3 separate regions of the Homo sapiens genome follow, and all the other regions are linked to region 1. Evidence: fine-mapped expression QTL. A gene starts in region 1. Each other region holds a variant in brackets. All regions are shown on one strand. Distances are between the middles of the regions.

Evidence for each region. PIP is the estimated chance that this variant, and not a neighbour inherited with it, causes the effect.
Region 2: its variant is the best candidate, but not a certain one, in a credible set for the expression of IL32 in whole blood (TOPMed, PIP 0.80).
Region 3: its variant is the best candidate, but not a certain one, in a credible set for the expression of IL32 in whole blood (TOPMed, PIP 0.60).

Annotation. Positions count from the first base shown.
Region 1 is chr16:3,061,480-3,068,310 of GRCh38, forward strand. It overlaps IL32 (interleukin 32), which reads left to right and starts at 4,161. Exons shown (of 7, transcript NM_001376923.1): 1 at 4,161-4,208; 2 at 4,305-4,347; 3 at 5,898-5,936; 4 at 6,075-6,134; 5 at 6,505-6,531; 6 at 6,701-6,760. The coding sequence starts at 4,333. RefSeq lists enhancers at 3,655-3,964, 6,303-6,822.
Region 2 is chr16:3,168,134-3,178,640 of GRCh38, forward strand. TRP-CGG1-2 (tRNA-Pro (anticodon CGG) 1-2) reads left to right here and starts at 3,915; the gene lies at 3,915-3,986. TRK-CTT2-5 (tRNA-Lys (anticodon CTT) 2-5) reads left to right here and starts at 7,558; the gene lies at 7,558-7,630. It also overlaps the pseudogene TRP-TGG4-1. RefSeq lists enhancers at 3,301-3,450, 3,347-4,087, 3,761-3,830, 3,851-3,900, 4,088-4,827 and 2 more and a silencer at 7,526-7,625. The variant T/C (reference allele first, on the strand shown) is at 4,891.
Region 3 is chr16:3,092,289-3,098,296 of GRCh38, forward strand. ZSCAN10 (zinc finger and SCAN domain containing 10) reads right to left here. Exons shown (of 6, transcript NM_032805.3): 2 at 254-716; 3 at 1-28. The coding sequence starts at 649. Among named protein-coding and RNA genes, the nearest start is that of ZSCAN10, 4.0 kb to the right of the region's middle. RefSeq lists an enhancer at 426-1,013 and silencers at 699-892, 2,384-2,453. The variant C/T (reference allele first, on the strand shown) is at 3,739.

The sequences.
Region 1 (6,831 bases):
GGAGGCCAAAGTGGGAGGATGGCTTGATCGCAGGGTTTCAAGACCAGCCTGGGCAACATAGTGAGACCTTGTCTCTACAAAATAATCAAAAAATTAGCCGGGCATGGTGGCAACCCGTGTCTGTATTCCCAGCTACTTGGAAGGCGAAGAGGAGAGAATCACCTGAAGCCGGGAAGTCTTGGCAACAATGAGCCATGATCACGCCACTGCACTCCACCCTGGGCAACAGGTGTGTCTCAAAAAAATAAAAATAAAAATAAAATTGGCTGGGCACGGTTGCTTATGCCTGTAATCCCGCATTTCGGGAGGCTGATGCAGACGTTTGAGAGGCAGATGTCACTTGAGTTTGAGAGTTTTAGACCAACTGGCCAACATGGTGAAACCCTGTCTCTACTAAAAATACAAAAATTAGCCAGGCGTGGTGGCGCATGCCTGTAATCCCAGCTACTTGAGAGGCTGAGGCAGGAAAATCGCTTGAACCCAGAAGTTGGAGGTTGCAGTGAGCCGAGATCGTGCCTCTGCACACCAGCCTGGGAGACCAAGCGAGATTGCATCAAATAAAAAAAAAAAAGAAACACAAAAATTGTCACATGGTACCATTTCAGCGCACTAAGATGGCTAGAATTAAAAAGACACAGAGCATAACAAATGTATCTGGGGATGTGGAGAAACAGGAACCCCCGGGCACTGCTGCTGGGAATGTAAAATGACAGACAATTTGAAACATAGTCTGGCTGTTCCTCAGAAGGATAAAAACACATTTGCCATGTAACCCAGCTATTCTTCTCCTTCATACGTATCCAAGAGAAGTGAAAACATAAGTCTGCACAGAAACTTTTGCGTGAATGTTCACAGCAGCGTTATTCAGAATAGCAAAAAAGGGGAAAGAACCCCAACTTCCTTTGAGGGGTGAATGGAGAAACCAAATGTGGTCTATCCACACAGTAGAATATCATTCAGCCAGAAGAAGGAATGAAGGACTGATCCGTGTTACAACACAGATGAACCTCAAGAACAGCATGTTCCGTGAAAGAAGCTAGACACAGAAGATCACGTAGTGTATAATTCTACTTATAAGAAATCTCTGGGAGAGATGCATCCATTGAGAGAGAAAGTAGATAAGCCCAGACGCAGTGGCTCATGCCAGTAATCTCAGCATTTTGGGAGGCCAAGGCGGGCAGATCACTTGAGGTCAGGAGTTCGAGACTCCTTGGCCAACATGGTGAAATCCCATCTCTCCTAAAAATACAGAAATTAGGCCAGGCTGAGTGGCAGAACAAGACTCCACCTCAAAAAAAAAAAAAAAAAAAATTGTCACGTGATACCATTTCAGCCCATTGGGATGGCTGGAATTGAAAAGACACAGAGAATAACAAGTATTGCTGAGGTTGTAGAGACACGGGAACCCTCGCACACTGCTGCTGGGAATGTAAAATGACAGACATTTTGAAAAATAGTCTGGCTGTTCCTCAAAAGGATAAAAACACATTTACCATGTAACCCAGCTATTCTTCTGCTTCATACATATGAAGTGAAAACATACGTCTGCACAGAAACTTGTACGTGAATGTTCATAGCAGCATTATTCGGAATTAGCCAAAAAGTGGAAAGAACCCAAATGTCCTTCGAGGGGTGAATGGAGAAACCAAATGTGGTCTATCCACACAGTAGAATATTATTCAGCCAGAAAAAGGAATGAAGGAATAATGCGTGTTACAACACGGATGAACCTCAAGAATAGCATGTTCAGTGAAAGAAGCTAGACACAGAAGATCACCTAGTGTATAATTCTACTTATAGGAAATGTCTGGGAGAGAGGCATCCATTGAGAGAGAAAGTAGATGAGGCCAGACACAGTGGCTCATGCCTGTAATCCCAGCACTTTGGGAGGCCAAGGCGGGCAGATCACTTGAGGTCAGGAGTTCGAGACTCCTTCATCAACATGGTGAAACCCCGTCTCTACTAAAAATACAAAAATTAGCTGGGTGTGGTGGCACGTGCCTGTAATCCCAGCTACTCGGGAGGCTGAGTCAGGAGAATTGCTTGAACCCAGGAGGCAGAGGTTGCAGTGAGCCGAGATCGTGCCACTGCCCTTCAGCCTAGACAACAGAGCGAGACTCTAAGAAAAAAAAAGAAAAAGAAAAAGTAGATGAGTGGTTATCCAGGGAAATGAGGACTGGCAGTGATGTCTCAGAAGGGCAGAATTTCTCTTAGAGGTGATAAAAATGTTCTAAAATGGGTTGTGGTGATAGCTGCACAGTTCTGTGCTTTGAATTGTACAGCTCAATGAGTGAATTGCATTGCCTGTAAATTGCATCACCATAAAGCTATAAAAACAGGGTACATACAGTCTGGGTGGATCCCAAGATGTCTTCAGATGGTGGCCTTTGAGAGTCATGAGGGGCTAGGGTTGGAGCTGAAGCCTAAAGCATGACTTTTAGCTGGTGCAGGAGTGGCTTCCTTCTGTCTCCCACTACAATTCAGAGGATACTCAGGGAAAGATCTGGACATCCTGTATGTGGAAAGGCGGTTGCGCACAGTGGAATGGACTCCTAAGTGGCAGGCAGGTGACAACCGTTGTCTACTTCACCCAAGGGAAGATTTCTCCATGGAGCGTGTTTTATAGGTTCTGTCTCTCCGAGTCCCCTTTGAGAATATAATGGGATACATTGCATCCATGCTGAATTCCTAAGCCCCAGGACCTCAGAATATGCCCTTATTTGGAAACAGGGTCTTTATGGAGGTACTTAAGGTACAATGAGGTCACTGGGGTGGATCCTACTTCTTTTTTTTTTTTTTCCGAGGGGAATTTTCATTGTTGTCCCCCAGACTGGAGTGCAGTGGCACCATCTCAGCTCACTGCAACATTCGCCTCCCGGGTTCAAGTGATTCTCCTGCCTCAGCCTCCCGAGTAGCTGGGAATACAGGTGCCGGCCACCACGCAAGGCTAATTTTTGTATTTTTAGTAGAGACAAGGTTTCACCATGTTGGCCAGGCTGGTCTAGAACTCCTGACCTTAGGTGATCTGCCCGCCTCGGCCTCCCAAAGTGTTGGGATTACAGGCGTGACCCACTGCGCCCGGCCTAGGGTGGACCCTATTTCAATATGACTGGTGTCCTTTGGAAAGGGGAAAGGGGGACAGTCACACCCAGGCAGAACGTGATGAAGATGAAGATGGCCATCTACAAGGGCAGGAGAAACCTGAACAGAATCCCAGCTCCGGGCCCTCAGAAGGACCCCACGCTGCCCACATTGACCTTGGACCTCCAGCCTGCAGATCGTGAGGGAAGAGACGTCTTCGACTTAGGGCCCCTTGTCGTGGTACTTCCTTAGTTTGGCCCCAGGAAACCATCCCAAAGGCAAGGGCGTGGTTGTGCTCAGCTGGGGGAAGGGGGCTGGGGGCCGTGAGGAGGAGGTGGGAGGCCCAGCCAGGCTGGAGGGTCAGAACCCGTGGAGCTAGAAGAGCCCGTAGGGGAGCCCCAAGATTGCTGAGACCAGTGACCTTCGGCCCCAGATGGCCTTGCCTTGGCCCAGAAGGGTCAGAAGGACCTGGTCAGCCAAGCTCAGACAGCCGGCAGGATGCCTTCCACCCTGCAGAGGGTCCTATCTTGTCCCACAGGTAGATCTACATCACCACTAGCCACCCCTCCAACGTGCACAGGCCCCTGCCCTCACGGCGCCCCTCTTAGGTCCGGCAGTTCCTGCCTCCTTCTGATCCAGAAGTTTCTCTGGCCTCTGGAGCCGGGGCACACCTCATGCAAGGACAGGGTCCAAATTCCTTTGTCCTTGGATCCCACTTGGCTGACGTCACCTTCCTGTACTCAGGGAGTTTCCCCAGCCAGCTGTCCCGAGTCTGGACTTTCCCTCTGCCCCTCCCCACTCTCAGGCTGGTGGGGTGGGGAAAGCAGCCCATTCCTGGGCTCAGAGACTCCCACCCCAGCTCAGAGGGAGCAGGGGCCCAGCCAGGGACGGACCCTCATTCCTCCCAGGGACCCCAGACCTCTGTCTCTCTCGGGTAAGTCTCCATCTCTGTCTGTCTCTGTCTCTGTCTCTGTCTCTGTCTGTTTTTCACGCACTCAGCAAGGCCTCCTGCCCTGAGAGAGGCTCCGCCCACTACCCCCCACTTTCCCCATAAAACCAGCTGAGTATTTGTGCCAGGAAGACTGCGTGCAGAAGGTGACTGTCTCAGTGGAGCTGGGTCATCTCAGGTGGGGAGTTGGGGTCCCCGAAGGTGAGGACCCTCTGGGGAGGAGGGTGCTTCTCTGAGACACTTTCTTTTCCTCACACCTGTTCCTCGCCAGCAGGCCTTGGCTCCTTGAACTTTTGGCCGCCATGTGCTTCCCGAAGGTGAGTGAGAGGCTGCGTGTGCTTTTGTGGGCATGTCTGAAAACAGACCGTAAGGGTGCGGGTGCCCTCAGTATTTCCCGAGGTGCCTGTGTGTCAGGGCTCAGTCAGGGGCACCCAGCGGCAGGAGGATAGTGATGGGGTGAGAGTGTCAGTGGAGGCGCTGGAGGTCATATGTGTCGGGGGCGCTGGAGAACGGCAGGGGTGTGGATGAGAGGGAGCACCTGTCCCAGGAGCCCTTCACAGCCCGGAAAGCCCGGGGCAGGGGTGGGGCAGGGCTCTGCTGGAAACGACTCGGAGAATGCTTCTCTCAGAGGCCGGCTCAGCTGGGTGGGCCCAAGAGCAAGGCCTGTGTGGGTCCTGGTGTCTCTTCCTCCTTTCCTGGGTTCCCTCCGACCTCCCATCCTCTACCACTGCCCCACCGCAAATGCTAGGCCCACCACACCCTCCAGGGAGCTCTTCGGCCTGTGACAATAGGGGTTTCCATGATGTGGCCTGGCTCAGGTTCAGGACAGTGACCCGGAGGACACATGGCTCCCGCATGTCGGCACGGTGCTGCTTTCACCCTGGTTCCTGGGAAATCAGGCTAGCGGGATGGGACCATCGCTGCCTGAAAGTGTGCAGACAGCTGCCCTGCCCAGAATATGTCCCCAGGCCCTGCGCACTCTGTGGGTGACTGTCACCACTCTATAGTGGGGGAAACCAGGCATGTCACCCCCGAGACTAGGCCCTTGACGTGGGGGCTCAGCGGGGATTCTGTGGGGTGCCTCTGGCCTCTGTGGATGCAGCCACGTGTCTGCAGGCAGGAATGGCCCGGGACCTGTGGGTCTGCATGTTGGCAGTCGGGAAGAGTGGCAGGTTGTAGGGTGGACCTACCTGGCACCCCAAATATTAATCAGCTCATCAGAGAGGAATGGCTGCTGTTACCTTCTCAATTGTCATGTCCCTAAACATTTTTTCCTTGGCCAACTCTCACCTGGGACCATAGTGGTTGTGGGAAACCCAGCTGAGCCAGCCTGCTCCAGGACAGTGTCCATCCTCCCGTGTGTGTACATGGGGGGGTGTGTGTGTGCAGGGAGGACACCCCGGCCCACGCAGGCCCTGCTCTTGTGAGGAGGGGTCACCTAGGCCCACGCAGGCCCTGCTCTTGTGAGGAGGGGTCACCTAGGCCCACGCAGGCCCTGCTCTTGTGAGGAGGGGTCACCTAGGCCCACGCAGGCCCTGCTCTTGTGAGGAGGGGTCACCTAGGCCCACGCAGGCCCTGCTCTTGTGAGGAGGGGTCACCTAGGCCCATGCTGGCCCTGCTCTTGGGCCTGCCCAGCTGAGCCGGCTCCTGAGAGAAGCGCTTTCTGAGTCGTTTCGAGGACAGCCCTGGCCGGTCTTTCCAGGCTGTGAGGGGCTCCTGGGACTGCTGTCTCCTCTTATCCTGTACCTCTGCCATGTGTCTCTGTGTGTGTGTGTGTGTGTGTGTGTGTGTGTGTGTGTGTATAAATTATCCTGGAGGAAAGGTTAAGGTGACACATGGAGACTGAGTGTCACCGTTATTTCCGCAGGTCCTCTCTGATGACATGAAGAAGCTGAAGGCCCGAATGGTAATGCTCCTCCCTACTTCTGCTCAGGGGTTGGGGGCCTGGGTCTCAGCGTGTGACACTGAGGACACTGTGGGACACCTGGGACCCTGGAGGGACAAGGATCCGGCCCTTTGGTGCCAACTCTGCCTCTCTTCACAGCACCAGGCCATAGAAAGATTTTATGATAAAATGCAAAATGCAGAATCAGGACGTGGACAGGTGGGTGGATTTCCCCTCAGGCACCAGGTCACATGTCCCCGCCCCCAGGCACTCCACCCTGTGTGGGGCTCAGGGTGAGAAGGATGAAGAGGGACCCACAGGCTCCCTCACCCCTTACCGTGGGCAAATGCTTGCACCTGGGTGGCAGTGAGTGGGCGGGTGGGGGATCTGGACGCCCGGGGAGACTGAGGGAGGCATCCAAGCCCCAGGGCTCCTTGAGGAAACAACAGGGGTGCCAGACGTGGCCCGGGCCCCTGGCTGGGCCCAGTTCGGGGTGTGTGGGAGCTGAGGACTCACTGGGCTTGAGGACTGACTGATGTGGGGTGCAGAGGAGGCTTGGGCCTGGAACCGAGTGCTTTGTTCCTAACAGGTGATGTCGAGCCTGGCAGAGCTGGAGGTGAGCCGTGGCCTCCCCCTCCACCAAGCTTAGTCCCTGGGTCTTAGGCTCCACAGGACACTGGGTCTGGGCCCCGGGTCCCCTTGGGAATCACCTGGACCAGTGGGGGCCACAGTGGGAAGGGGGCAGGCAGGAGCAGCATGAACCCCCTGTGCCCTCCTCTCCCCAGGACGACTTCAAAGAGGGCTACCTGGAGACAGTGGCGGCTTATTATGAGGAGCAGCACCCAGTGAGTATGACACACCCATCTGGGCACCTTGCCTTCCTTCACCTCTGCCCTGTCTTTTCTTTCTTTCTTTC
Region 2 (10,507 bases), 110 kb after region 1:
AGTAGCTGGAGTAGCTAGGATTACAGGTGCCCACCACACCAGGCTAATTTTTGTATTTTTAGTGGAGTTGGGGTTTCACTATGTTGGCCAGGCTTCTCTCGAACTCCTGACCTCAGGTGAGCCTCGGCCTCCCAAAATGCTGGGATTACAGGCATGGGCCACCGTGACCAGCCAGAATCTTACTTTGTTACCCAGGCTGCAGCATGGTGGTGAGAACACAGCTCACTGCAGCCTCAACCTTCTCAGCTCAAGCAATACTCCCACCTCATGCACCAGCTAATTTTTTTGTGTGTTTTCTGTAGAGATGGGGCCTCACTATGTTGCTTAGGCTGGTCTCAAACTCCTGAGCTCAAGGGATCGTCTTGTGAGACATTGCGTCCAGCCAATTATTTTCCTTCTTTGCTTCAACTCCCATCAGTTACCAGTTCCTGGACTGGAATGCTGTTCTTCCTCCTCTTTCTTGACTGGCCCCGTATTTTCTCTCCTGTCTCAGCTTAAATGTCACTCCTAGACTCATTGTTCCCATGTCAGGAACTCATCTATATATGACAACACCCTTATGACAGCCTGTAATTTTTGAAAGTCTATTCATTTTATTTTATTTTTCCAAGACAGGGTCTTGCTTTGTTGCCCAGGCTGGAGTGCAGTGGTGTGATCGTAGCTAACTGCAGTCTCAGCCTCCTGGACTCAGGAATTCTCCTACCTCAGATTTCCAAGTAGCTGAAACAACAGACTTGTGCCACCACACCCAGCTAATTTTATTTATTTATTTAGATGAAGTCTTATTCTGTCACCTAGGCTGGAATGCAGTGACGTGAACTCAACTCATTGCAACCTCCACCTCCCGGATTCAAGCGATTCTCTTGCCTCAGCCTGCCGAGTAGCTGGGATTACAGGCGTGTGCCACCACGCCAGACTATTTTTTGTATTTTTAGTAGAGACAGGGTTTCACCATGCTGGCCAGGCTGGTCTTTAAGTCCTGACCTCTAGTGATCCACCCGCCTCAGCCTCCCAAAGTCCTGGGGTTACACGCATGAGCCACCGTAGCCGGCCTGATTGATTTATTTAAATTTAGCTACCGGGTCTTTCTATGTTGCCCAGGATGGTCTTGAGCTCCTGGGATCAAGTGATCCTCCCTCCTCGGCCTCCCAAAATGCTGGAATTACAGATGTGCATCATTGGGCCAGCCTATTTACTTTTTATTTTAAAACAATTATAGATTCACAGTAAGTGGTCAAAAAGAAAAAAAAAAGTACAGAAAACTCTTGTGTAGCATTCACCCAGTATCCCCTAAGACTTCCATAACTGTGGCTCAGCATCAATGCCAGAAAATGAACACTGGCTGTTTTTCAAAGGTATTTTTCTTGGTTATTGTCAATCTTCACTTTGAACTGTGTGCTCTTTATTTTGTGCCTACTATTGTGCCCACCAAAAAATTAGATGCATGCTTTAACACACGACGCCTGTGATCTTTGAGAATAAAAAATTTGACTCCATGTAGATAAATCTAGACCTGACTTGTTCTTTTTCATTTTATTTTATTTTATTTTAGTTTATTTGAGACGGAGTCTTGCTCTTGTCGCCCAGCTTGGAGTGCAGTGACGTGATCTCGGCTCACTGCAACCTCCGCCTCCCGGGTTCAAATGATTCTCCTGCCTCAGCTTACCAAATATCTGGGATTGCAGGTGCATGCAGCCAAGCCCAGCTAATTTTCGTATTTTTAGTGGAGACGGAGTTTTACCATGTTGGCTAGGTTGGTCTCATTCCCGACCTCAAATGATCTGCCCGCCTAGGCCTCCCAAAGTGCTGGGATTACAGGCATGAGCCACCCTGCCCAGCTTGACTTGTTCTTTTTTGTTTGTTTGTTTGTTTTTGAGACGAAGTCTTGCTCTGTCACCAGGCTGGAGTGCAGTGGCCCCATCTCAGCTCACTGCAACCACCACCTCCGGATTCAAGCGATTCCCCTGCTTCAGCCTCCCGAGTAGCTGAGACTACAGGCATGCACCACCATGCCTGGCTAATTTTTTGTATTTTTAGTAGAGATGGGGGTTTCACCATGTTGGGCAGGCTGGTCTTGAACTCCTGACCTCGTGATCCGCCCGCCTCGGCCTCCCAAAGTGCTGGGATTACAGGCGTGAGCTACCGCGCCCGGCCGACTTGTTCTTTTTTAAAGAATTAAAATATGGTCTGGGTCTTTTACTTTGGAAGAGGGGTGTTAACTTCAGAACTGTCCTAGGTTCAGTTCAGATCCCCGCGAGGGAAGGGGATTAAAGAGAGAAGGAAGTTGAGCCTCTGAGCCCATTGCGCCCCGGAATCTGGGAGGCGGCGTGACCAGGTGCCCGGGTTCCATCCGCTGGGGCTGGGCAGCCCCCCTGCCCCCGCCCAGTACAGAGGCTCCTGCCGGGGGAGGCGTCCATCGCGTTCGCTTACTTCTCTAGACCAACAAGCGAGGGACGCGGAGACTGAGTTGGCTGCGGCCACCGGGTCCCCGGACACCGTCTTCATTCACTCCCACCCTCAGTCAAGCACCTGTACCCGCAGTCCTTTCCTAAAAGAAGAAAAACGGCCGGTCGCGCGCTGTCCAGAGTACTCAGTCCTGGATCCAGGAGGTGGCTGGCGGTGAGCTGATTTCCGGGTTCTTAAACCCGGGCCCGGGGCCCAAGGCCCCGCCTGGTGGGGTCTCATCCTGCAGTTTGAGAAACCGAAGAAGGTAGGAGAGGGAGGAAGCGCCGGCTTTGCCTGTGAAAGATTCTTTCATTCGCTCCATTCTTGTTCTTGCGCGCTGGATTTACCAGGCTAACAAACAACAGCTGATCACGGCAGGCTGGGCTCCTCTGGGACTCGCACCGGGGCCTCTCGCACCCAAAGCGAGAATCATACCTCTAGACCAACAGGCCTCGGTGGCGGGAAGCACCATCTTTGCTCCTCCACTCCCTCACCCCCCTCCCGCCCCGCGCCTTATCTTTCTGGAACCCAAGACTTCGTATTCTCCGCTCTCCATAAACGTCGATGCCAGCTCTAGGAGCGTGGCCGGGAGCCCACGATCGCGGCAGCGAGAAGCCCAACCAGAGGGGAGGAGGGAGTCCCCGGAGTGGGACAGCGCTCAGGTCTGGGGTGGGGTTGATCTAGGGCAAAATAGGGCGGGCGGCCTGTGGCGATGGGCAGGACCCTCTCGCCCACCACACGCGGAACTCGCTGGATCCTCTCCACATCCAGGCCGCGTCCACTGGCTTTCCAACCTGCTCAGGTCCTTAAAGAAGGATTCAAAAGGTGTTGCGGTATTGGCCCAACAGGATTTGACCCTGAGGCCCACTCTCACCCTAATCATAACCGCAAAACCACAGCGCCTGGAGAGAGAGTGAGAGAGAAACAGAAACGGAGCGAGTGTGTGTCGCTGTGATGCCCTTTGCCGTCGCTGCTCATCCCCAGTGACCTCCTGGAACTTTTTCAGCTCTTGCTGACAGAGGAAGACACGGGGGCAGAGCTAACGTCTGAGTCAGGGCAGAGGCGCTGGGCTCCATCCGAGGGAGGCTATGGGGGCGCCTCTGGGATGGAGCCAACCACCGGCGCAGTCGGATGAAAGGTGGGCTGGCCGCTCAGCCATCCTCCTAGGGCAAGGCCTTGGGTATGAGTCAGCAGCCCCAGGTGTGAGCGCAGACCCGGTAACCCCGGCGCAGGGGAAAATACAGCGGGGAGCCCCAGGCTGCAGGCCTGACCCTGAGCATCCCCTACCAAGCCCAGTGTGGATGGGCTCTGTCTCCAAGGGGCTGGTTCACCAGGGTCTCCCCGCAGCGACCCCAGAATTCTGCCAATCACTTGGGGACGGCGATGAGCTCTATCCACTTCGGAATCAGCCGATTTGTGCCGGATTGGTGGCAGGTGTCTGAAATGTCAGCGGAAATACACGCACGGGAGGCTCGTTGGTCTAGGGGTATGATTCTCGCTTCGGGTGCGAGAGGTCCCGGGTTCAAATCCCGGACGAGCCCTAGAAGTGGTTACTTTTCCCTTGTCATTTTAGAGAATATAGAGCTAGAAAATCGGGGACCGAGCCTGAAGCCTCAACTACCAGTCGCGTTGCTCCGCTTCAGGTCGGTCCAGGTCTGTGCCTCAGCTACAAGGGACAAGGATGCTCCTGAGGCTGGCCTGGTCGGCACTTGCCTCAGCCTCGAGGGAGTCCCGCGCCCTTCTCCTTCCCAACCCCAGACCAGAGAAGCTGTACCCTCTGCAGCCCGGGTCGCTCAGCTCCACATGGGCTCCGGGTATGGTGGAGGCCGGTGGTTGGGTTCTGAGTGATCGAGTAGTGTGCACGGTCTGGGCGGGCCCTGGAGAGCTACTCGTTCCTCGACCTCCCCTCCCCGCCCTAGAAACCCACATCTCTGCAGGCCAAGGCGGAGTCACAGATGAAGCTCGTTGAGAGCAGGTCAAAGCTGCCTGACCCGATGGCCCCCTGCTGCGCTAGCCAGGAAGGTGCCCAGGAGCCACATATGGCTCTTAAACACTTGAAATATGGCTGGTCCCCTTGAGATGTGCTGCTGTGAGTACAAAATACACATCGGGATTTTGAAGACTTCGTACCAAAAAAATAAGATATCTCATTCTCTCATTACACATGGAAATTAGATTTCGTGTCTACAGTATTGAATAATATACACACATATGAAAAACATATGTTTTATATCTAAACATATATATTTTATATGTGTTTATATATTATATGTAGTATATATGTATCATATAATTATATTAATAATATGATTATATCATAATAATATAATTGTATTATATAATTATACTTTTCTTTGAGAAGGTGTCGCTCTGTTGCCAGGCTGGAGTGCATTGGCACCATCTCGGCTCACTGCAACCTGTGCCTCCAGGGTTCAAGAGATTCTC[T/C]TTCCTCAGCTTCTGAGTAGCTGGGAGTATAGGTGGGTGCCACCACGCCTGGCTAAATTTTTTTTTTTTGAGACGGACTCTCACTGTGTCTCCCAGGCTGGAGTGCAGCAGTGCGATCTTGGTTGGCTCACTGTAACCTCCGCCTCCTGGGTTCAAGTGATTCTCCTGCCTCAGCCTCCTGAGTAGCCGGGATTACAGGCGCCCGCCACCACACCTGGCTAATGTTTTGTACTTTTAGCAGAGACAGGGTTTCACCACATTGACCAGGCTGGTCTCAAACTTCTGACCTCGTGATCTGCCCACCTCGGCCTCCCAAAGTGCTGGGATTACAGGCGTGAGCCACCGCGCCCAGCTATTTTATTATTATTATTATTATTTGAGACAGAGTCCCTGTCACCCAGGCTGGAGTGCAATGGTGTGATCTTGGCTCACTGAAACCTCTGCCTCCCGGGTTCAAGTGATTCACGTGCCTCAGGCTCCCGAGTAGCTGGGACTACAGGGACTCAACAGCACTCCCGGCTAATTTTTTGTATTTTTAGTAGAGACAGGGTTTCACCATGTTGGCCAGGCTGGTCTCGAACTTCTGACCTCAGGTGATCCGCCAGCCTCGGCCTCCCAAAGTGCTGGGATTACACGTATGAGCCGCTGCTCCCGGCCTCGGACAGTTCTTTTAGGGGTAGAGGGAAAGATGACAGGACCAGGCTCCCCATCCCTCATCTGCACCCCACAAACATGGACCCACAAAATTGAGGCTCTCAAAGGCCCCAGCTTACACATCTGTAATGTGAGGATAATGGCAATTAAAAGATTAATTCGAGTATTAAAATTTCTTCATGTTTTGGTAAAGCATGTAGAACAGTGCTTGAAGACTTCCACATTAACTCTTGGCTGCCCAGCCTATACATTTCAGACTTGCCCGATCACATGTGCCAATTCATTTAAATAAATCTAGTAAAAATAGCAACACATCCATGCACGTGTACACATAAGCGTCATCCGTCTCAAGTATCTCTTCTAATGGTTTTGTTTCTTCTTTCCAGAGCCTAGCTGATACAGCAAATCCTCCAGGTGTTTGGTATGGTGATTCACCAGCCCAAGAAGAAGTAAAAAAACGGAAAGCCCAGGTCGAAGCCCCAGTGCTGGGGCTGAACGTGAGGGGTCACCCCATACACACTCCCCTCTCGCTGCTGGAAAAACCTGCTGAGGTTAGAGCTGCCCTCAGCCCCTCCCACTTTTTCTTTTCTTTTTTAAACTGCTCGTTTCCTGTCCGGATAGCCTTCCTCCGGGCGGCAAGGCCCGACCACCACGGCAGCATAACAGCCTGCCCCAGTCTGGCTAGCTAGGTGGGTCGAGATGAGACTCCACTCCCCCCACCCCTTACTCTCAGGCATGTGACTTGAGCCCTCTCAGGCATCTCCCTTAAACCTTGGACGTAGGGTTTGAGGGGCGCCCCCTCCTGGCTGAACTCTGGGGTCCTGGAAGAAATAGGACCTCAGCGTGGAGTGAGAACAGAAGAGCCAGGAAAAACAGAGTCCACGGAGCGCCTGAAGCCGCCGCCCGCACAGCCCTGCCAAGGAGGAGACTCGAACCTGGGGAGATGCAAGTGCTGAGGGCTCAGGGGGGGATTCTTTTTTTTTTTTTTAATTTTTATTTTTTCTGAGACAGGGTCTTGCCCTGTTGCCGAAGCTGGAGTGCGATGGTGCAATCATAGCTCACTGCAGCCTCAGCTTCCCGAGTAACTGGGACTCCAGGCGCGCGCCACCACGCCCGTCTAATGTTTAAATTTTTATTTTTTGTAGAGACGGGTGTCTCGCTATATTGCCCAGGCTGGTCCCCAACCCCTGGGCTCAAGCGATCCTACCCCCTCGGCCTTCCAAAGTACTGGGATCACAGGCGTGAGCCACCGAACCTGGCTAGGGAATTCTTCTTCAGCCGAACAGCAGCGGCAAAGGCTAAGGGTCCTAGAAAGGAACGGGAAACCGTCACCTGCCCAGGTGGGACGCGAGGCAAGGAACCCAGCGCAGGAGGCCGCTGGGTCACGGAGGTTTCCTGTCTGCTTCCCGCCGTCACTGCCGGCCGCCTCCCACCTTCTCCCGGCCCCCTGCAACCCAGCCCACCCCAGCCCACCTCCCCCTGGTGGGGACACGGTTTTCTTTCCGGGGTGCCTCGCAGTTCCTGCAGTCCCTCCCTCTTCCCCACCCCCACCCCCATCCTTTGGGCAGGAGTCACAACAATTTCTTGCTCCAGTTTGGCAGCTGCGGCTCTGTGCCACACCCTCCAACGGGGCTGGATGCCCAGGGTCTGCTGCCTCCATGGGATCTGGCTGGGCTCGAAGTCGGGGCTCAGCAAAGGTATTTCGTGTGAACGAGGAATCCACGGGTCAGACCCGCTTCCACAGCCCTGAGTCGGGGCGGGTGCCAGGGCCAGTCACCCTGACACTCAGGAGGTGCCGGCCTGTGGGGCGTCCGCGGGTGGGCCTCTGACGCAGAGAAAGACCCAGATCCAGCTACCTCGGGGGCCTCCTGCTGCGCCTCGCCTTTGGGGCAGGCCTGAGGGCAACGCTTACTGCGGAGCAACTGTGTTCTACAGTGTAGTCCCGACACTGAAGACTCCTGGTCCTGGACTCTGCTGTAATCTAGAAATCCACTAAGGTAACGTTGGCGTGTCGCCCGGCTAGCTCAGTCGGTAGAGCATGAGACTCTTAATCTCAGGGTCGTGGGTTCGAGCCCCACGTTGGGCGATTCCTTTTTACTGCGAGCCTCACCCGCAAGGATAGCATTGTGAGTTTCTGTTCCAACTGGGTCAATTTTCTTCTCTCAGCCATCTGCCCCTGGCGATGCAAGATTTGGTGAAAGCAGATGCCTGCTCATCCCAGGAAACCATCCTGGAGTGGGGTTTCACTACTCCTGACCTCAGGTGATCTACCTGACTCAGCCTCCCAAAGTGCTGGGATTAAAGACGTGAGCCACCGCGCCTGCCCTGAATTTCCTCTTCTTGTAAGGACTCCAGTCATATTGGATTAAGGCCCATCCTAATAACCTCATTTTGTCTTAATTACCTCTTTAAATACCCAGTCTCCAAATACAGCCACATTCTGAGGGACTGAGAGTTAGAACTTCAACATATGGATGGTGGACAGTCACAACTCAGCTCATTAAAGTGAACATTGTGTACATGGTTTAGTATGAACATATGTCTTAAATTTCCTTGAGCATAGGAGTGGAATTCCACTTAGGAATGGAATTTTGGGGTCATTTGGTAGTTCTGTGTTTAACATTTTGAGGCTATTATTCACAGTGGCTGGATTATTTTATATTCCCACCAGCCTGACTGAGGGCTCGTGTCCTAGAAAAGTAGTAATAGATTTACATAGATATTTTGCATCAAAAAATATTTATTCTGAGATTATACTTAAAAACCAGGAAACAGGCTGGGCGCGGTGGCTCACGCCTGTAATCCCAGTACTTTGGGAAGTCAAGGTGGGTGGATCACGAGGTCGGGAGTTCGAGACCAGCCTGGCATGGTAAAACTTCGTCTGTACCAAAACCACAAAAATCAGCTGGGCGTGATGGTGCGCGCCTGTAGTCCCAGCTACTGGAGAGGCTGAGGCAGAAAAATCGCTTGAACCCGGAAGGTGAAGGTTGCAGTGAGCCGAGATCGCGCGCCACTGCACAGCAGCCTGGGCAACAGAGCGAGACTCCGTCTCAAAAAACAAAACAAAACACAACAAAAAACAAATGGAAACAATCTACTTGCCCCAAAATAGGGCATAGATTAAATGAAATTATCATAAATCCAAAATGGAGGATAATGTCATAAAAAATAATGTTATATAATGATGATCCCATGTGTGTAAAACTCTAGAAAATGCAAAATAATACAGTGACAGAAAGCAGAGAGTGACGGACTGCCAAAACTTACCAAATTGTACACTTTTTTTTTTTTTTAAATGGAGTCTCACTCTGTTGCCCAAGCTGGAGTGCAGTGGCGCGATCTCGGCTCACTGCAGCCTCTGCCTCCCAGGGTTAAGCGATTCTCCTGCCTCAGCCTCCCGTGTAGCTGGGAACAGGCACGTGCCATCACACCGAGCTACTTTTTGTATTTTTAGTAGAGACGAGGTTTCACCATGTTGGCCAGGCTGGTCTCCAACTTGTTAGATATGAGTTCCAAATTTCTTTTCAAAGATTCAATATGTCAGTATGTTCAATTCTTTACCTTCTACTTTTAAACTTAACTTCCTCATAAAGCAACCTTTTTCAATTACCTACTCCACCCTGACTCTTTCGATTACCTGCTCTGTAATAACCATTTTTCCCGCCAAACCATTCGCTCCGTCACTCTCTTTAAATTATCCAATGGCAATTAGTTTAGCCTGTGCGGTCTAACCCTAGCCAATAGGGGAATGACACAGCAGCAGGGGCCACGTGCGAAAGGGATAAGAACCCCTTCCCCTCCCTTGTCCAAGTGTGCTCTCACCATTGCTCCATCTGTAAGGGCGCACCCTTCTATAGAAGTACCTTGCCTTGCTGAGAATTAAAAACAAAATTTTATATTTTCGGGCTATTTCTTTTGCGGCACCGAAACTTTGTATATAACAAACTCCTGACCTCAAGTGATTCGCCCACCTCCGTCTCCTGAAGTGTTGGGATTACAGGTGTGAACCACCGTGCCGGGCCTACAACCGGCAATTCTTGATCCTTCACACCGACTCTCGCTGTCCTCCAAGATTTTTCCTCTTTACCTATAGAGTCTCCAGGACTCGATCCCCAATCCCTTGCAAGCCCTGCAGGGAAACTGGAGGGCACTGGCTTCCCCACCTTTACTCCCCACAGTTGCTCCTCAGGACCACAGGAACGGAAGGGACCAAGCCCCTAACCTAGAATGTTAGTGATTTTAGAAGGAAAAAACTTTGGGCTTATTCAGGACTAGAACCTGAGATCTCTTACGCCTTATGTGAAAAGCATGCCTGAATCAGGCTTGACGGCACATTCCTATAATCCCAGAACTTGGGTAGTCTGAGAAGGGAGGATTACTTGAGCCCAGGAGTTCAAGACCAGGCTGGGCAACCAAGAGGGACCCCATCTCTACTATTGCTACTGCTACTACAAAAAATAAATTGCCAAGAATTGTGGCTCAGCCTGTAGTCTCAGCTACCTGAGAGGCTGAAGTGGAAGGACTACTCGAGCCCAGAAGGTCGAGGCTACAGTAAGCTGTGACTGCATCACTGCACTCCAGCCTGGGTGACAAAGTGAGACTCTATCTCAAAATTTCAGAAAAAGCAAAATAGAAAAGCAGGCCTACTGATCAGTGCCTCTTTCTTTTCCTTCCTTCCTTCCTTCCTTCCTTCCTTCCTTCCTTCCTTCCTTTCTTGAAACGCAGTCTCGTTCTTGTCACCCAGGCTGGAGTGCAATGGCATGATCTTGCTTCACTGCAACCTCTGCCTCCTGGGTTCAAGCGATTCTCCTGCCTCAGCCTCCCAAGTAGCTGGTATTACAGGCGCCTGCCACCATGCCTGCCTAATTTTTGTATTTTTAGTGGAGACGGGGTTTCACCATGTTGCCCAGGCTGGTCTCGAACTCCTGATCTCAGACGATCCACCCACCTCGGCCTCCCAAAG
Region 3 (6,008 bases), 30 kb after region 1:
AACTCTTGCCAGCATTACAACTAAAATCCTGTTCAAAACACATTCAAGTTAAGTGACTCCCGGGGTGGCAACCTGTGTCCTGACTCCGAGGGGACATGGGACAGAAACGAGGTTAGAGTCAGCCAGGGGAGGAGTTAGGAGGTGAAGAAGGAATGGTCAGGTGGGGGAAAGTGAAGTTTCCAGAGATTCCTCACTGGGGGGATCAAGTCCCCATCATCCGCATGCTGCTCAGCCCGCTGCCCCACCCTCTCACCAGCGGCCCCGCGTGGCTGGGCTCCCGGTGGATGCCCTCGAGCAGCAGCACCACCTCCTCCCCATCCCTGAGCGGCTGCCCCTGCAGGCGGCCCAGGAGGTGCGGAGGCAGCACACTCAGGAACTGCTCCAGCACCAGCAGCTCCAGGATCTGTTTCTTGGTGTGCAGAGCCGGCCGCAGCCAGTGGCCGCAGAGCTCCCGGAGCCGGCTCAGGGACGCCCGTGGCCCCATGTCCTCCTGATACTGGAAGCATCTGAACAGCTGGTGAGCCACCTCGGGCCTCAGCCTGGACTCTGGTCGCCTGGGGTCCTCTGGGCTGACAGCCTCCTCCTCCTCCAGCTTGACTTCCCCCAGCTGCTCCTGCTCCACGGCAGCTGGGACTGATTCTCCAAGCATCCTTCACTGCGGGGATGCCTCCCTAACGCCAGCCCCGCTCTTGGGTCTCTCTCCTCTCCTCCCACACCTGCGAAGGTGAACACCCTGGGTTAGGATCTGCTGCGAGGAAGCTGGCCCCATACCTGGGTCATCCATGTTAAAAGACACCCAATACGCAGACCCAGAGGAATCGCTTTTCTCACTGGGTAATGGCTCACGAGGGCAGGACAGCCCCCGGTCTCAGGGTTACCAACAAAGCAAAGGCCAGAGAAAACTGACAGTTCTGTATTATCATCCCTCCTTAAAGCATTTAGAGATTTACATCACTTGGCCGGGCACAGTGGCTCACACCTGTAATCCGAGCACTTTGGGAGGCCGAGGCGGGTGGATCACGAGGTCAGGATATCGAGACCATCCTGGCTAACGCGGTGAAATCCCGTCTCTACTAAAAATACAAAACAATTAGCCAGGCTAATTTAGTCCCAGCTGCTGGGGAGGCTGAGGCATGAGAATGGTGTGAACCTGGGAGGCGGAGCTTACAGTGAGCCGAGATCGCGCCACTGCACTCCAGCCTGGGTGACAGAGCGAGACTCAGATCAAAAAAAAAAAAAAAAGAAATTTGCATCACTTTTCCCAAGTGATTAAAGTGACCATCCCTGAAAGAGAAACACCCTGCCCTTCCCTTCTTCCTGATGTAGCCACTGGGAGCACATGGCACCATCAAGATGGATCCTGGCCAAAAAAGTTTGTTTTTTAAAGCTTTTTTTTTTCTTTTTTTTTTTGAGATGGAGTCTTGCTATATCACCCAGACTGGAGTGCAGTGGCATGATCTCAGCTCTCTGCAGCCTCCACCTCCCAGGTTCAAGCGATTCTCATTCCTCAGCCTGGGTTTACAGTAGCTGGGATTACAGGCCTGTGGCAGCACGCCCAGCTAATTTTTGCATTTTTAGTAGACACAAGAGTTTCACCATGTTGGCTGGGCTGGTCTTGAACTCCTGACCTCAAGTGATCAGCCCACCTCAGTCTCCCAAATTGCTGAGATTAAGGCGTGAACCACTGCACCAAGCCTGTTTTTTAAATTTTTAATTTAATTAAGTAATTTATTTATTTTTTTGAGACAGGGTCTCACTCTGTCACGCAGGCTGCAGTGCAGTGGCGCAATCACGGCTCACTGCAGCCTTGATCTGCTGGGCTCAAGTGATCCTCCCGCGTCAGCCTCCCGAGTAGCTGGGACTACAGGTGCATATCACCATGCTGGGTTAATTTTATTTATTTTTTGTAGACACGAGTTCTCATTATGTTGCCCAGGCTGGTCTCAAACTCCTGGGCTCAAGTGATCCACCTGCCTCAGCCTCTCAAAGTGCTGGAATTACAGGCGTGAGCCACTGTGCCTAGCCCAAAAATACCTAATCTCAATCCAACCAGCCTTTATTTATTTATTTATTTGAGATGGAGTTTCACTCTTGTTGCCCAGGATGGAGTGCAATGGCAAGATCTCGGCTCACCGCAACCTCCGCCTCGCGGGTTCCGGTGATTCTCGTCCGTCAGCTTCGTGAGTAGCTGGGATTACAAGCACGCGCCACCGCATGCCGCTAATTTTGTATTTTTAGTAGAGATGGGGTTTCACCATGTTGGCCAGGCTGCTCTCAAACTCTTAACCTCAGGTGATCCGCCCGCTTCGGTCTCCCAAAGTACTGGGATTACAGGCATGAACCACCCCGCCCGACCTAATGGTGGCCTTTAGATCCAACTTCCAATGTTTAGGGCCTTGCAGGGAATATGGAACAAGTCAGACCATCTCTCAAAGAAATTGGCCTGAGTTACTCAGTGTCATAAAAAGTAAGTGCCTGTAGGAGGCGCTGGTGGACAGGAGCCCAAAGAGTCCTCACAACTAAGTGGGTGAACCTAGATTGGATCCTCATTCATTTTTCTTAAAGGCTTTAAAAGACATCCTGGGGCCAGTCGGAAAATGGTGAGTATGGTGGGGATACTAGATGATAACAGTATGACTACCCATTTCTGAGATGAAAGTCTAGTCTTGTAATATATAGGAAATGGCTGAGTTCTTAGAAGACGCTGAAGAGTTTGGAGAAGGGGCCTGATATATGAGATACATATATGAATGTTCATTTCACTGCTCTTTCAAGTTCTCTGGATGTTTTCGAATTTTCAAAATGAAAGGTTAGCGGGGCTGGCTCACGCCTGTTATCCCAGCACTTTGGGAGGCTGAGGCAGGAGGATCACTTGAGCCTCAGGAGTTCAAGACCAGCCCTGGGCAACATGGCACGACCCCCGTCTCTAAAAAAATTAAAAATGTAGGGCAGGGTGTGGTGGCTCACACCTGTAATCCCAGCACTTTGGGAGGCTGACGCAGGCAGATCACAAGGTCAGGAGATCGAGACCATCCTGTCTAACATGGTGAAACCCCGTCTCTACTAAAAATACAAAAAATTAGCCACGGGTGGTGGCGGGCACCTGTAGTCCCAGCTACTCGGGAGGCTGAGGCAGGAGAGTGGCGTGAACCCCGGAGGCGGAGCTTGCAGTGAGCCGAGATCATGCCACTGCACTCCAGCCTGGGCGACAGCGAGACTCCGTCTCAAAAAAAAAAAAAATTAAAAATTTAGCCAGTTGCTGGGGGCACTGAGTGGCTGACGCCTGTAATCCCAGCACTTTGGGAGGCCGAGGGTGGATCACCAGGTCAGGAGATCGAGACCATCCTGGTTAACACGGTGAAACCCCGTCTCTAATAAAAATAAAAAAAATCAGTCGGGCGCAGTGGCGGGTGCCTGTGGTCCCAGCTACTCAGGAGGCTGAGGCAGGAGAATGGCGTGAAACAGGGAGGTAGAGCTTGCAATGAGCCAAGATCGCGCCACTGCACTCCAGCCTGGGCGACAGAGCCAGACTCCATCTCAAAAAAAAAAAAAAAAAATTTAGCCAGTCATGGTTGTGTATACCTGTGGTCCTAGCTACCTGGGAGGCTGAGGTGGGAAGATTGCTTGATCCCAGGAGGTTGAGGCTGCAGTGCAGTGAGCTGTGACTGCAACATTGCACTCCAGCCTAGGCGACAGTGCCAGCCCGTCTCAAAAAATAAAAAATATAAAATAAGTCAT[C/T]TATAGCCACCAGGAGGCACTGACATCCTCCCCCAACCTCCTCCCAATCTAGGGCTGTGGGGCTTCCCCTTCCTGGTCTGGTAGCCCAGTACTACCCATGGGGAACCTCCGAAATTTCGGCCCCACCCACAGGGGACTCAGTTCAGCCCTGCTCAACTAATTGAGGCTGGATGATTTAAGCTTTTCTGAGCAGAGCAGAGCAGGCTCATATTTTTGTTTGAGTCTCTTTTACATTTTATTTCAGGCAGGGGTCATTTTATAGACATGGAAATCCAGGCTCCTGCCCTCTGCTTTCTGCCCTTCCTGTTCTCTAGCCTCAGGGCTACAAGTGAACCTCTCCTAGAGCCTCCCACCCTCCACTCCCAGTTGGCACCCCAGGTAGGGGGATGTGAAGAAAGCCTGAAGCACCACTCCACTCACCTGAATGGCACAGGGCACTGTCCAGCATGCAGTGGCTGGCACACAGTAGGCATCCATGAGCACGAGCTATTACTGTTCTCATTGCTGCTGATTACAACACCAAGCACCGCAGCAAACAGTGACTCACAGTTCTGTTGGGCCCATCACTGACCCATTCTACAGCCGAGGACACTAAGGCTCAGCAAAAAGGTAACCCAGTGGCCGAGTGCAGTGGCTCAGGCCTGTAATCCCAGCAGTGTGGGTGGCCGAGGTGGATGGATCACCTGAGGTCAGGAGTTCGAGACCAGCCTGATCAATATGGTGAAACCCTTGTCTCTACTAAAATTACAAAAATTAGCCGGACGTGATGGCATGCGCCTGTAGTCCCAGCTACTCAGGAGGCTGAGAGAGGAGAATTGCTTGAACCTGGGAGGCGGAGGTTGCAGTGAGACGAGATCGTGCCACTGCACTCCAGCCTGGGCGACAGAATTAGACTCTGCCTCAAAAAAAAAAAAAAAAAAATTATCCGGGCATGGTGGCATGCATCTGTGGTCCCAGCTGTTCGGGAGACTGAGGCAGGAGAATCTCTTGAACCCAGGAGGCAGAGGTTGCAGTGAGCTGAGATTGCATCACTACACTCCAGCTTGGGCAACAGAATGAGAATCTGTCTCAAAAAAAAAAAAAAGTAACTCAGCCTTGGGCAGCCTCTCCCTGGTAACGATGGCCTAGTTGAGAGCCTTGGACAGTTTGCTGTACCCCCTTAATATGAGCCTGAGGGTTCCCTGAACCTCCTCAGGTGGGGTGGTGTTGTGGTACAGAATGGGGGATTTTAAGCTTAGCCGCTGAGAAGGAGGGGAGGTGATTCTAGAACATGACCCATCTCTCCCAACCTCCCTGCAACACACAGTATCTTCCAAGCCCCTCACCCCTACCCCGGCTCCCCTGCATCTCCCAACCTCAGCCACCTGGGGAAGGACTCTGACAAAATGGAACGGGAAGTTCCCTGCCCCAGTCCCATCCCATCCAGGTGTTGAGGGGCTTCCTAGCGTTAACCCTCAAGCTCCCAGTTTGGGAGGTGGATGGGGACAGGGTGGGGCCAGATAAGCGAAGACAAAGTGAGAAATCCAGATTTCAACCCCTGCATGTGTGAGAGTGTAACCACCCCCGAGCCGGAACTACGCTTTCCTGCCCTCTGGCATCCACTCCAGGCAGCCCCCATCCTCCCACCCCATCTCTCCCCACTAGGGCGATGGAGTGCCTCAATCACAGATGAGCGTATTTCTCTGCCTGGCCTGGGAGTAGGAGCTGTGTCTAGTTCAATGAGTGTTCATCCAGCACTTGAAGTTGCTTCAGTGTCTGTTAGCAGAAATTAGGGAATGGCAGTGATTCTGGCCATCTCGAAGGAAAGCATGTAACAACGTCTAGGACAGAAAAAGTCTGTGATAAATGATCAGAAAAATGGTGTTGTGAGGCCGGATGCGGTGGCTCATGCTTATAATCCCAGCATTTTGGGTGGCCAAGGCAGAAGGATTGCTTGAACCTGGGGGGTCAAAGCTGCAGTGAGCCATGTTCGCGCCACTGCACACCAGCCTGGATAAAAGGCGAAGACCCTGTCTCAAAAAAAAAAAAAAAAAAAAGAAAGAAAGAAAGAAAAGAAAAGAAAAGAAAAAAAAAGAGTGGGGGAGGGGGAAGAAAATGGGATTACGTTTCACTGGTTTTTAGTAGCATGCACAAAATAACAAGAAAACTAATCACTGCTCATCCATTGCCGTGCAGGAGCAGCGGGCAGGTACTGAGTGTCTGGCGATTAAGCTCATTTCATCCCAGTCCAGCCCACGCACGAAACAATCACTTCTCCCTTTGCCAAGTGC